2 linked regions of the Homo sapiens genome follow. The protein of the gene in region 1 interacts with the protein of each later gene in a biochemical or structural test. Each region holds a gene or a part of one and is shown on either strand. Other genes may lie near its edges.

What was found. Proteins that work in one complex are often made in the same cells at the same time.
Region 2: the proteins of UBLCP1 (region 1) and PAAF1 form a complex in vitro, tested with the Homo sapiens proteins (one study listed by BioGRID).

The regions. Positions count from the first base shown.
Region 1 is NC_000005.10:159,259,053-159,266,300, reverse strand, and holds the start of UBLCP1 (ubiquitin-like domain-containing CTD phosphatase 1), read right to left. Parts: upstream 3,012-7,248; 5' UTR 2,941-3,011; intron 1-2,940. UniProt on the Homo sapiens protein: Dephosphorylates 26S nuclear proteasomes, thereby decreasing their proteolytic activity. Recruited to the 19S regulatory particle of the 26S proteasome through its interaction with 19S component PSMD2/RPN1.
Region 2 is NC_000011.10:73,872,013-73,879,998, reverse strand, and holds the start of PAAF1 (proteasomal ATPase-associated factor 1), read right to left. Parts: upstream 3,001-7,986; 5' UTR 2,978-3,000; coding exon 2,931-2,977; intron 1,221-2,930; coding exon 1,180-1,220; intron 1-1,179. Other genes in the region: COA4 (cytochrome c oxidase assembly factor 4 homolog, mitochondrial), read left to right, coding at 6,594-6,884. UniProt on the Homo sapiens protein: Inhibits proteasome 26S assembly and proteolytic activity by impairing the association of the 19S regulatory complex with the 20S core.

The DNA.
Region 1 (7,248 bases):
TAATACATAACAAGAGTCACTTTTACTCCAGTTCCCAACAAGTTCCTCATTTCCATCTGAGACCACCTCAGCCTGGACCTTATGGTTCATATAGCTATCAGAATTTTGGGCAAAGCCATTCAACAAGTCTCTAGGAAGTTCCAAACTTTCCCACATTTTCCTGTCTTCTTCTGAGCCCTCCAAACTGTTCCAACCTCTGCCTGTTACCCAGTTCCAAAGTTGCTTCCACGTTTTCGGGTATCTTTTCAGCAATGCCCCACTCTACTAGTACCAATTTACCGTATTAGTCTGTTTTCATGCTGCTAAGACATACCCAAGGCTGGCCACAGTGGCTCATGCCTGTAATCCCAGAACTTTGGGAGGCTGAGGCAGGTGAATCACCTTAGGTCAGGAGTTCAAGACCAGCCTGGCCAATGTGGTGAAACCCCATCTCTACTAAAAATACAAAAAAAAATTAGCCAGAGGTGGTGGTGGGCGCCTGTAATCCCAGCTACTTACAGTTCCACAATGGCTAGGGAGGCCTCAGAATCATGGCAGAAGGTAAAAAGCACTTCTTACATGGCAGTGGCAAGAGAGAATGAGGAAGACAGAAAAGCGGAAACCCCTGATAAATCCATCAGATCTCATGAGACTTATTCACTTATTCACAAGAATAGCACGGGAAAAATCGGCCCCCATGATTCAATTACCTCCCACTGGGTCCCTCCCACAATAAGTGGGAATTCTGGGAGATACAATTCAAGTTGAGATTTTGGTAGGGACACAGCCAAACCATATCAATCAGAAAATACAAAACCCATGGGTACAGATCTAAGCACACAAAGATTATATAGTGGCTGCCACTCATGTAAATAACCAAACATATGTCTCTTCCTGCATAAAGCTTTCTATTTTTCATTAAACTCATTCCTCCCACAGTCCAGAGAACTGGATTTTCTAATCTCAAGGTATTGGTATTTCCAATGCTTTCACTTATTTGATGAAACATTTGATTGCACTCTTCATGCAACTATTAGGACCAACTGCAAGAAAGAGGTTAAATTTTTAATCTCCACTTCCAAAAATAATTTAAAAACAGTGTCTCCTACTAAAAGGCCAATTAGAAGAGAGAGCCATAAATTCATATTTATATTTACTCATATATGAATACAAATATGAACTATAAATGTATATTTACTCCTATGTTTACAATGTGTTCTACTGAAAATGTAAAGCAAGTGTCTTAATTTAGGGTAACGTATTCCATTTTAGACAGAACTATAACAAATGTTATATTCTTCAATTAAAAGTGGACCTTTTGAGTTAAACTGAAATACAGTTTAAATATTTTCTGTAAGACATAAGAATAAAAGGGAATCCTACGAGAGCTAGAAAGGCAACCAGCACTAATATCGCATATATTGTGATGCGTAGTAGTGCAGAGTTTGGAGTGAAATCATCTGAGTTCCAGGTGACCCTGGACAAGTGATTGCTCTTCTAGACTAGTGGTTTTCAAAGCATGGTCCCTGGGCTAACGAACAGCATTGACCTCACTTGGTAATTTGGTAGAAATGTAATTGGGGTGGAGAGAAGGGACCTAGGAATCTGTGTTTTAACAAGGTCAGTCCTCCTCACCTCTGATGAATGCTCAAATTTGAGAGTCAGTACTACAGGCTCTTCAATGTTTTCAGCCTTAAAAAAAATGTGCCAGAGGGCATGGGCTCTATATGGTTAATAAAGCAGCATAAAAACGTTACGAAGCACCTATCCCACAAGTGGAAATTCCAAGTTGGCAAATGCCTTAAAGGGCCAAGCGAAACAAACACCATAAAAATTGTAAATGCATATGTCTTTAAGATTTGTTTAAAAGTTACTGAACCTTATTTCATCATTAAGACCGTTCACACCAATGAAGCAGTGTGATATAAATGCATGAGCTATTTTGCTTTCACATTTAACCTTCTTTCTTAGTATTTTGTATCATTTCAGATCCCATCAGATTTATAAGCTGAAAAATGATTTGGGGTGTGGGGAGGAGTGAAGTTGGCAAACCCAAACAAGCAAGCAAAGAATACACTTCCATATGGTCAACCTAGGGTCAAGAATAGCTGTTTAGGTTGGAGTTCTACCTAACATACTGTGTTGACTTTGCCTAGTCAATCCACCTCTTGGCCTCAGTCTTCTCAACAAGATGAGGCTACTAATATTCACTGGACAGGAGTAGTGTTAAGGTATGAAGTAACACCTGTGACAGCACTTTGTAAACTGTAAAACACAATACAAATGGTGTTCATGATGGAATAAAAACATGCTAAACAATTATCTCATTGAAGCTTCACAATCCTGAACCAACAGCTGTTGTCCTCATTATACAAATGAGAATCCTGAAAAGAAATTAAACTTGCCCGGGACCACAAACCTAAAAAGTGGCAAATGAAGAAATTTTAAAGTATAGCAGTAAAAGTAACACTTTGGGAATTAACGGGAGGTTAACTTTCAACAATCCCAGCAAAAGATAACCGTGAAGCACTAAGAACTCCGGCGAGAACCGCACACCAGCAACAACTGCGAGGTGGTGCAGGGTCGGGGGCTGTGCTAACTGACTTAGGGGAGCATTAGGAGGCAGGTGGAGGCTCCAGAACCAAAAAGGCCGGGATGCCTTCAACAAGGAGGTTGAGGGGAGGGATGGACAAGCCTGAGAAGACGGAGGAATGAAGTTTGGGGACGCAAAACCCACTGGGAAACAGAAAGCCCTCCAAATAGGCTAGACTGCTGGATGGGAGGACAGCGGCCCCCGCGACTAAGCGGGCCGGGGCTAGGGGCCTGGGCGTCAGACTAGGACAGACACTATCCCCAGCCCGCCGCAGTGCAAGCCACGCCGCGCGGGCCGCAAAGCCACTGTCCCCGAGCCCCAACAGCGTCTCCAAGGGCAGCGCGCCAGGGTGCCCCGCAACCCCTCACCTGGAGCGCGGTGGAACCTGCGGCAGCGGACGCAGAAACCGGCCGCTGAGAGACCGAAAGCGACCGGAAGTGAAGGGCGGGACCGGAACCGGCTGAAAAACCGGAAGTGGGTGGTTTGAAACGGAAATATGTTGGGGACGGAACAACTGCTTCCTTTGAATCTCTTCGGGTGCTAATCAAATGGCCGCTGTAAGGGATCTCCACAAAGCCACGAAGAAGCCAGGCCTTTCCGAGACTGTAACCGCTGTGCAGATAGCGCCGATCCCTGGGTGGCCGCTCTCTCGTTCTGCGCGTGCGCTCGTTCTGGGCTGGGAGCGGATGGGTGCTGAGGCGTGTGACGTCTCTAGTAGTGTCGTAACTGGGTGTGCTGCCTTTTCCAGGTGTACTGAGGTCTTCGTGAGATTCAGGGCTAGGACTCGTGTGGCTGTGTCATGTTCCGAATGAAGCTTAAAAGGTGATCTTTGAGAACTGAAGACTTGAGACCCCTCCATGGGCCCAGGGGCTGCCAACACTAATAATTTCAGAGACTTAGAATCTGAGGAGAATCTCCAATCTAAGGGGAAACGGAAGAGGGTCAGGAAAGAGAAGGGGCAAGCTTAAGTGACTCAGAATCCAAGAAGCAAGTCTCATAGGAGAGCTGCGATCGAGGTTACCATACAGTATCCAATCGTCTCAACCTTCCCATCCATACTTCCATGCTGTCTTTCCTCTGAATGCAAGGAAAACCGGTTACACAAACGCTGACAAAAGAATGTCAGACTTGAATGGAAATTCGGAGCAGTACCCATCTGGTCCATACAGCGAACTCCCAGTGAGCACCACGGCAATGTAACTAATTCATGTTTCCCTCTTGGCAGTGCGGGAAAGGCAGCAAAGAGCCAAGTTTTGTATCTTAACAGTTCTTTAGTTAAGAGGCACACGCTATTTTGCATTCTTCCCTACTTTTGATAATTTTTGGCTGCACTAGTAATGCATGAGTATCTGCTCATTTAAAAAACTCAAACTTTTTCAGTGAAAAGTATGCCCTTTTCTTCAGAAAGTCTTAATTAAAAAAAAAAAAAAAATCATTGCCCAGACCAACATTTTCAAGCATTTTCTCAAATCGTTTTCTTGGAATAGCTGCATAGTTTTGGGTCTTACATTGAAGTTTGGTGCTCATATGTGGGAGCTAAAAAAAAGTTGACTCCATGGAGATAGAGAGTAAAATTGTGGTTACCAGAGGCTGGGAAGGATAAGGAGGGAGAAGGAGATGAAGAGAAGTTAAAAGGAGCGAAAATATGGTTAGACAGAAGGAATAAGTTGTAGCGTTCCACAGCACAGTAGGGTGACTATAGTAATCAATAATTTATTTTGTATTTCAAAATAGAGGAGAAAGGTTGGGATAGTCTCAACACAAATGATAAATGTTGGCCGGGCACAGTGTGGCTCACACCTGTAATCCCAGCACTTTGGGAGGCCAAGACAGGCAGATGACTAGAGGTCAGGAGTTCAAGACCAGCCTGGCCAACATGGTGAAACCCAGTCTTTACTAAAAATAAAAAAAATTAGCTAGGTGTGGTGGCATGTGCCTTTAACCCTAGCTACTCGGGAGGCTGAGGCATGAGAATCACTTGAGCCTGGGAGGTGGAGGTTGTAGTGAGCCAAGATCATGCCACTGCACTCCATCCTGGGTGATAGAGCAAGACTATCTCAAAAAAAAAAAAAAAAAAAAAGAAAAGAAGAACTTTTGCCTCCTGTTGCTCCCTGGAGCCTCTCTTCTAATGTGTGGAGGATAATATACTTGTCCTTCATTCATGCATCTCTGTAGCAGCTAAAGATGCCTGGGAATTCCTCCATAGATTGTCAGGTCTGAGAGTCTAAATAATATATGGAAACAATTTCACAACATCAGATGACAAACTGTTAATATTACTGTGACCACATTTACTTTGGAAGATAAAAGGACATTCCTGCACCTAGGCCAGAAATCCCCCACTACTCTGCTTTTATCTCCATCTCCCCCAGACTTTTTTCTCCCCTTTTCTCTCTCTGGCCATTTTCTTTCTCTAGCAAGTGTGTTCTCTTGCCCAGCTCAGATCTACTCCCCTCAAAAAGCTTTCCCTCTCTTCCCAGTTGGAAGACAATCCTCTTCAAAAATTTAGTTCCCTCTAGAAGTTTGTCTCTCTCTTCTAATACCTACTCCTTTGCCTTTATCTTGCCTGCAGTAAGAGAGCTGAAAATATTTAGAATCTGCCCCACATGACAGAATACAGGTTCTTAATGAAGCATGCCCAGTTACTGCCCTTCTCTATTCAGCATGCTTTCCCCAAACTACTACTTAAAAACTCCATTCTCTTCAAACCTCAGAACTTCCAATATACTCCTTTGCTCTAGGCAGATGACATTGTCCCATATTTTGGCAATTCTTCAAACCTCTGAATCTACAAACTAAGGTATATTTTCAGTCATCCTCACTCTTGCTTATTTCAGTTGAGGCAGTTCGCTTCTATTTGAAGCCAACCCTTTAACTTGTTCTCCGGCTTCTTCCTTCTAAGGAAGCTTTCTATAAATCCAGGATTCCCTTCTCTTGCTCTTGTATTTTTAACCTCTTTCTACTGGCTCATTCCCATCAATAATAAACATGCCATGGTATCTTGCCATCATAGCCATCACCCTTTCCTTTCACAGATGGATATTCAGAACATTGTTTACAGTTGTCTGAACTTGACATAATCTATAATTGTATACTTCTTGGAAATATTCTTTCTTTAGTGACATTCTCTCCCACTATATTGTAAGCATATTAGTTTTCACACTGCTATAAAGATGCTACCTGAGACTGGGTAATTTCTAAATAAAAGAGGTTTAATTGACTCACAGTTCCACAGGGCTAGGGAGGCCTCAGGAAACTTACAATCATGGAAGAAGGTGAAGAGGAAGCAAGGCATGTCTTACATGGCAGCAGGAGAGAGAGAGAGCGTGCACGCAGGGGAACCTGCCCCTTTTAAACCATCAGATCTCGTGAGAGCTCCTCATTATCATGAGAACAGCATGGAGGAAACCACCCCCATGATCCAATCACCTCCCAGCAAGCCCCTCCCTCAACACGTGGGGATTATAATTTGAGATGAGATTTGGGTGGGGACACAAAGACAAACCATATCAGTAAATTTTGTTAAGGAACAGACAATTTATTCACCTTTCCATTCTCAGAACCTAGCATGATATTGGCTAACATAGATGCTCAATAAATATATGCTGAATGAATGAATAATGAATGTTAAGTAATAAGAGCTTATGATGTAACAGTTGTCCTTTGGTATTGGTAGGGGATTGGTTCTAGGGCCCCCAATAAATAACAAAATCTAAGGCTGCTCCAGTCCCTGATATAAAATAGCATAGTATTTGCATATAACCTATACACATCCTGTCATACACTTTAAATCATCTCTCAATTACTTATAATATCTAATACAATGGAAATCCTATGTAAATAGTTGGTATACTGTATTGCTTTTACTTCCATTATTTTTTATTGTTGTCTTATTATCTTTGGGTTTTTCCCCTAATACTTCAAACCCGAGGTTGGTTGAATCCGTAGTTTTGGAACCTGTGGATCCAGAGGGCCAGCTGTACATATTACGCTTGTAACAATACATATCAATGAATGATTACAATTTGTATATAACTCTGGAGGTACAGGAAAGGTCTGAAATGCACACTAAAATCGTGATAGATCATAGCTCTATAGGATGTATTCAGTAAATATTTGTTAGGTGAATTAATGAAATTATCTGTGGCATCACAGAACAGGCAATTTCCATCTTGTTTATATTTTTATGTACATCTGAATTTTTTACAGTTTTACATTACTTTTATTTCTTTTTTATATGAGAAGTTCATAAAGGCATTCTTTTAAAAAATATTGAAATAACACAGATACGTTCATAACTCTGCTAACTTTTTGTAGTGCCTATCATTGCTTTTCTAGACTTTATACACACACATACACACATATGTATAGTTTATGTTATTTTTTTTTTATCTTGCTCCGTTACTCAGGCTGGAGTGCAACTGCACCATCATGGCTCACTGCAGCCTTGACGTGCTGGGCTCAGGTGATCCACATCAGCATTTCGAGTAGCTTAAACTACAGGTACGCGCCAACATATCCAGCTAATTTTGTGTGTGTGTGTGTTTTCTAGGGCAGAGTTTTGCCATGTTGCCCACGCTGGTCTCGAACTCTTGAACTCAAACAATTCACCCATCTTGGCCTCTCAAAGTGCTGGGAATTACAGGTGTAAGCCACCATGCCTTTTATGAGACTTT
Region 2 (7,986 bases), on another chromosome or scaffold:
CCAGAATGGTGGATGACAGGTATGAGCCCCCACGTCTGGCCTTATTTTTAAGATGATTGGCAAGTCACAGCACTATAAAGTCCATCCTTTATTCCACTGATATAAACAATAGTCTTTTTTTTTTTAATGATGGGGTCTCACTCTGTCACCCAGGCAAAAGTGCAATGGTTCGATCATAACTCACTGCAGCCTCAACCTCCCGGGCTCAAGAGATCCTCCTATTGCAGCCTCCCAAGTAGCTGGGACTACATGCGCATGCCACTATGCCTGACTAATTTTTTTTGTTTTTTATAGAGATGGGGAGGGGGTCTCACTTTGTTGCCCAGGCTGGTCTCGAACTCCTGAGCTCAAGTGATCCTCCTGCCTCAGCTTCCCAAAGTGCTAGGATTACAGGTGTGAGCCACTGTGCCTGGCCAAAACTTTATTTCTCATAGAAATACAATATATCAGCAGCATTTGAAATGAAAGATAATCAGCAAAACAAAACTTTCTTACAGAATTTAGAAGGAAGGTTGATTTGTTTTAGAATGGTACCACCTCGGTTACAATTTGAAAAGAATCCTGTGAATGATATAAGACTGTTGTTCAAAAGAAAAATTGATAAGACTTGGGAGCTTCCTGGATATGGCAGGGTCAAGTAACTAGGTTTTTCACTCTGATGCCTAGAAAAATGATGGTAACTTAAGAAATGAGAAAAATCAGGAAAGAGAACTCACTTGACAACAAATGTACTTAGCTTGGTTTTGGACTTCAGTAAGTCCAGTAACTTAAGGTGACAGTGAGACCTTTAAGCAGAAATATCTAGCAAACAACTGATCAATCTCTGCTTGAACATGGAGAAGTCAGGGCTGGGGCTGTAGATCTAGAAATTATCATCAAGAAAGTCCCAGTTGAAGCTGCAGAAGTGCTTAGAATACAATAGCACAGGGTAAGTGACTAATTAAGATGCATCAACAATGTCTCCATGAATAAGTCTGTGGCTTTCAAATGGAAAATCAATCTGAAGGCCTTCCCTTGGAATGGAGGAGTTGGGGTGTTGGCCATACAGTACAGACTGGTCAAGCATGTTTGCAGACTATTATGTAAGGAGGCTGGGCCAGGAGAAAGTAGGAAGCTTTCTTTTAAGGGTATTAATCCTTCTCCTTTAAAGTCACAGCATATATAATTCATGGGTATTACCTGGGGGATGACAGCTCAGCCAGGCCTCCCCTTCATCCTTCCTACGAAGAAAGACAAAAGCCTAATTAGGCTTACCCAAAGTTGAATAGGATCCCATAGTTACAAGGGAAGAAAGAAGGTCATGTAACCTCCAGCTTGGTCATAGTACTTAGACATGAGATAGTCCAACCTCTCATCGAGTATAGATCATTCTAAGACAGACAAACTTTATTTGTTCAAGAAATATTTGTGGATTAACTATTTAATGAATAGATATCTGTTGGTTAAATTAATGCTCATCCATCAACAGTGAGCTCACTTTGAAAAATCAAGGTTATTTAATTATTTATCAGGATTATTGTAAACCAAGCCCTGTGCTAAGCACTTTCCATACACAATCATTAACCCTCACAATAACCAAACAAGATTCCTTTTATTATTTTAGCACCTGCCCAATCATCCAAATCCTGATCTCTTCACCCTAGCACTTTTAGGGTATAATGGAAAGGGTCTATGCATTTAAGACAGAAAGATCTAGGTTGACAGCAACCCTCTATCATTTGACGAGATGCATGATCTTGGGCAAATTAAGCCTTCTGATTCTGGTGCTGTATTTTCTCATAGGTAGCTAGTGGCACTTCATGTTATTGTTCTTTATTACTTATCACATTCTGTGTACTAGCAACTAGTCTGTATTTTAGCCCACCTAAATTAAGTAAGGTATAAATTTAGTAAGGTGTAAATTTCTTAAATGCAGAAGGCTATGTTTCATTCATCTTCACCATTGTTTCAATTTGAAAAACCCTTATTAGTAGTAGCAGTTGCCAAATATAGCACTGCTATATTCATCCTGAAGCCTAGAGAAATAACTGGAATAGTATAAGATCAATAAATGTTAGATGAATGAATAGTTTGCTGTGTATTCCTAATTAAGACGTCAGCTTTTCTTCTTTTTTGAGATGAGTATCGCTCTGTCACCCAGGCTGGAGTGCAGTGGTGCAATCTCGGCTCACTGCAACCTCCACCTCCTGGGTTCAACCGATTCTCCTGCCTCAGCCTCCCGAGTAGCTGGGATTATAGGCGCCCACCACCAAGCCCGACTAATTTCTGTATTTTTAGTAGAGACGGAGTTTCACCATGTTGGTCAGGCTGGTCTCGAACTTCTGACCTCAACTGATCCACCAATCTCAGTTTTCCAAAGTGCTGGGATTACAGGCATGAGCCACTGCGCCTGGCCTGGATGTCAGCTTCTTGAAGAGCAGGAACCATCACTTATATTTAGAGTATACATCTGAGCTCCACCAAGCATCCAGTATGGGGCCTGGACACAGTATTAGTTTCCTTAATAGTATCGTCCAGTATGCCTAATATAGCATTAGGGGCCTAGGAGAATACAAAGGTTCCATCACATACACAAAGTGGTGGTGAGTACAGAGACTTCTGGAAGTAACTGACGACTAATCAATATTTGCTAAATGACTGCTTGGCCAAAAGCCTTCCTGCCTCCCAGTATCCCTGTCTTTCTCCAACTCACTGATACTAGTTCTGACGCGGGGATCACACAGCTCATGTGCTCCCTTGGCCTAGGGATAGCTTTTCAGAGAATGACCATACGGGTTTGATACTTCTTTTTCCGGACCCTGTTCCCTCCATATCCCTCGACAATTGACGAAGTAACCCCTATTGATATCCTGGACCAGGCATGGCTCTCCTTGACGCAAAGCAACATCCACTACCCGCCTCCTCTGACTCTGTTCTGGGCCTGGATTCACCTGAGGGCTTGCGCCCAGTCGCTCTGAATCCTCAAAGGCGCCGCCATCTCGACCCCGCCTCCACCAGCCCACCTCTTCCGCCCCTTCCCGGAAGTGAGTCCCCGAGAAGCGTGCGGCGAGGACAGAGGTGGGCTCAACACCAAGAGGCCACCAATGAAAACGTGACTTTTTCACATTCCCCGCCCCTTCCGTGTGCACGCTCCCCACGAGGGGCTGGTTCCTGAAAGGATGTACAGAGGATCCCCAACCGCCTGCGAAACCCAAGCCGCCGCGTAGGAGCGTGCGTTCGGGCCCTCTTCTCCCACCTGTTCGGTGAGCATCGCGTACCGCGTTCTTCAGGAGGCGTTGCGGGCACAACGGGGCTGCGATCAGCGGCCGCGCGCGCGCATGCGTCCTCAAAGTTCAAAGTCCTCGATACGCCTGAGGCGCCTCAGGCCTCGTGGCTGCCAGCATTTTTCTGCTTTAAGATCCTTTCCATGACTTCCTTGTTTAGGCCAGCCTCCACGATCCAGCTGCCAACCATCTAGCCTACCCTGATCTCTGAGCAGGGGTCGTCGTCATTTTACTCCAGAGGAGACTGAAGCCAAAAGGTGGTGAGAGGAGAGTACAGCAGCATTTACTGAGTCCTATAGTAGCCCAAGCGCTTTTCATTCGTTATATTAATCTTCATTCTAATTGTGCGAATTAAATATTATTAATGGGAAAACTAAAATGAAAAAGATTACATAGTAAGGCGTAGTGCTGGGATTTGAACACGGATCTCTTGGTTTAGGATCAAGGCACTTTCTATTCCACTGTTCTTTCTCTAAATTATTTGCTCCTGGCCCTATTTAAAGAGTTAACAGTGTATTTAGGAAGAGAAAACTATCATTTATTGAACTCTTTAGACATACCAGCCTCCTTACAAACCTTACCTTTTTTTTTTTCTTTTTTTTTTTTTTTGAGACAGGGTCTCCCGCTGTAACCCAGGCTGGAATGCAGTGGCGTGATCACGGCTCACAGTGTTGCCCAGGCTGGGCGCAAACCATCCTCCCGCCTCAGCCTCCCAGTGTTGGGATTACAGGCGTGAGCCATGGCACCCGGCTTCATCTCTGTGCTTCCAGAGAGGTTATTAAATGATGTGTCCAAGGGCACCAAATGAGGCAGTGACAAAGCTAGGTCCAAGTCTGTTTCAAAGCCCATTTTCTCCCTCTTGCTTAAGTTATACCGCCTCCAAGGCAAATGAGTTGTGTAAAGTGCCTAACTCCCTCTTGTGATTCCCCATTGCCCTCAGAATAAAAAGTCTTAAACTCCCTACTATGTCCTACAAAGCCTTGTGATGATCACTTACTTATATCGCCAGTTTAATATTGTCTTATTCTCACACTGTATTCTCCCATCACTGAACTTTTTTTTTTTTTTGCTCTCATGTGTCAGATTCTATCTCAACCACCTGCTCTTCCATTGACCAAAAATAGTTTTCCCATCTCTGGCTAACTTCTGTTCCATCTGTCAAGTTTCAGCTTGGAAATCACTTCCTCTAGGAAGCCTTCCCTGCCTATTCCTGCCCTTGTCTGGATTAGGCATCCCTCCACTGTGGTCCCAGTCTTTGCTATCTGTACACTGTGTAGTAAACTGCCCTGTTTCCTTGTCTAGGTTGTAAACTCCATGAAGCCAGGAACTTAACTGACTTAGACAGTCTTGAATCCTCAGCACTAGCATAGTGCCTGGTACATGATAGGTACTTAATCATTTGTTGAGTGAATGAGAGACACAGTTAAGGCAATAAGGAGTCCTAGTTGCTTTACAGCCCATCATGGTGAAATTTTTGCAAAGGCTGAAGTCATTTCTCTTCAAACCTTAAGTTCCTTCTGTATGCTGCTTTCTGCTGAGTGTTCTGATGCAGACGGGCAAGACAGTTTGGGCAAATAAATACACCTCACATTTTTGTATAGTTTACAAAGCCATCTCACCTTATAGACCCAGAGGCCAGGTTTCTGCATACTGTATGCTACAGCCACAGTGAACTCTTTCCATCCTTCCCATGTGTCAAAACCTACCCATATTTGGGCACTCTTTCACTTTGTTTGTTTGTTTGTTTTGGAGATGGAGTCTCACTCTGTCACCCAGGCTGGAGTGCAGTGGCACGATCTTTGGCTCACTACAACCTCCGCCCCTTGGGTTAAAGCGATTCTCCTGCCTGAGCCTCCCGAGTAGCTGGGATTACAGGTGCCTGCCATCACGCCCGCCTAATTTTTGTATTTTTAGTAGAGACGGGGTTTCATCATCCCGGCCAGGCTGGTCTTGAACTTCTGACCTTATGATCCATCTGCCTCGGGCTCCCAAATTGCTGGGATTACATGTGTGAGCCACTGCACCCAGCCTCTTTCACTTTTTAAACTTTGTTCTTCAGCATAGAATAAGGCTAGTAGGATAAAAGAAGAAAGGTTATTTATTTGAAACAGGGTCTCACTATGTCACCTAAGCTGGAGTACAGTGGCACCATCATAGCTCACTGCAGCCTTTGAACTCCTGGGCTCAAAGGATTCTCCCTCTTCAGCCTCTTGAGTACCTGGGACTACAAGTGTGTGCCACTATGCCCAGCTAATTTTTACATTTTTTTTCTTTTTTCTTTTTTTTTGAGATGGAGTTTTGCTCTTATTGCCCAGGCTGGAGTGCAATGGTGTGATCTCGGCTCTCCGCAACCTCCGCCTCCCGAGTTCAACCTCGGCTCTCCTGCTTCAGCCTCCTGAGTAGCTGGCATTACAGGCATATGCCACCACACCTTGCTAATTTTGTATTTTTAGTAGAGACGGGTTTCTCCATGTTGGTCAGGCTGATCTTGATCTCCCGACCTCAGGTGATCCGACTGCCTCAGTCTCCCAAAGTGCTGGGATTATAGGCATGAGCCACCGTATCCAGCCATTTTTAAATTTTTTTGTAGAGATGAGGTCTTGCTATTACCCCTGCTGGTCTCAAATTCCTGGGCTCAAGGGATCTTCCTGCCTCAGCCTCCCATAATGCTAGGATTACAGGTGTGAGCCATCGTACCTAGCTGAAAGTTTAGTTCTTTTTAGGTAGATCAGAGATAGCTTATCTAAAAAGATGACATTTCACCTAATTCATATTCCAATAGCAAAATCCACTGAGCTTATTGAATGTTATGTCAAGCATTCTCACAGTTTATCTCATTCAGTTCAAACCACTTTTCAGGCCTGCTCTCAGCCAGGCCTAGTGCTGGGGGCACAAAGGTAAATCAAGACGAACATCAGCCGGGCACAGTTGGCTCACACCTGTAATCCCAGCATTTTGGGTGGCTAAGGCAGGAGGATCACTTGAGCCCAGGAGTTTGAGACCATGCTGAGCAACATGGAAAAACCTTGTCTCTATTAAAGAATCAAAAAAATTAGCTGAGTGGTGATGCACACCTGTAGTCCCAGCTACTCTGGCCAGGGAGGGACTGAGGGGGAAGGATTGCTTGATCCCTAAAGATGGAGGCTACAGTGAGCCTGGGCAACAAAGCAAGACACCCTCAAAAAAAAAAAAAAAAAAACAAGCATCTGTCTTCAAGCTTAGAGTCTCCCACGGGAGACAGACACATTAAACAGGCTAAATGGTGCAGTCTGGTCAGTGCTATTTATAATTTAGGAACCTTACATATTATATCCCTACTCTAACCTGTTAATGTTCTATAGACTCCCCATCCCCAGGATGTCAACCTCAGTCCCTCAAGGCCATACCTGGACCCAACGGGTGAAGAAAGACGATGAGGAGGAGGACCCGCTGGACCAGCTGATCTCCCGCTCTGGCTGTGCTGCCTCCCACTTTGCAGTGCAGGAGTGCATGGCCCAGCACCAGGACTGGCGGCAATGCCAGCCACAGGTGCAGGCGTTCAAGGATTGCATGAGTGAACAGCAGGCGAGGCGGCAAGAGGAGCTGCAGAGGAGGCAAGAACAAGCCGGTGCCCACCACTGAGACCCCAAACCACCTATCCCCAGTAGATGGCCCTGCCAAGACCAGCACCCAGCAAGATTATAGAGGAAGAAATCCTAAATGCTGGTGTGGGAGGTCTAAAACATGGGGAGAGTTTTTGGATCTGGAGTTGAGAGCCATGGGTTTGGACATGACTGGCACAAACAGCTGTCATATGTTCATGGTCAGATGTCATACATTCTCAGCTGTCTTGTTCCACCAGTATTTACCAGGAAAACAAAGAATGTGTTAAGGGATGCTCCCCCACCCCACATCTTAAGTCAGTGTGCCAAGTACTGAGATGATTTTAGGGACATTTTATTTTAAATTAAATTTACAATCTAATGGTAAATTGATTACCTAATTAGTGCCTTTCTCTTTCATCACTTGTTCTGGATGTTTCAATCAGTTTAGTGGAAGGAAAAATAAATGGGGAAACTTTTTATTCAAATATGTTTTTCTTTTGTTTTTTTGAGACAGGGTCTCTGTTGCCCAGGCTGGAGTGTGGTGGTGGAGTCAGGGCTCACTGCATCCTCAGTGGGCTCAGGCCATCCTCCCACCTCAGCCTCTCAAGTAGCTGGAACCACAGGTGTGTGCATCACCACACCCAGCTAATTATTCAAACATTGAGTACCTATTAAATGCCAGATTCTGTTGAATTAACAGATACCAAGTCTGGCTTTAACTTGCTCCCAACCCAACAAACACAAAGTTGGGCTAACATTTTTAGAGTATATTTAACACTAAAATACAGATTTTCAGCTTTTGAAAAGGGGAGAAGATGTCAACATTGATTTTTATTCCCTCTTAACAATTTGCTGGAGCTGAATAATAACTCCCCCTTTAAGTAGGTTGTGTTTTCCCATTCAAAACAGTTGCATATCATTTCTCATTTTTCTTCAACAAAACGACTCTTCCATTCTATTCTTTTTTTTTTTTTTGAAATGGAGTCTTGCTCTGTTGCCCAGGCTGGCGTGCAGTAGCGCAGTCTCGGCTCACTGCAACCTCTGCCTCCCAAATTCAAGTGATCCCCCTGCCTCAGCCTCCCAAGTAGCTGGGACTACAGGCAAGCACCACCACACCCGGCTAATTTTTGTATTTTTAG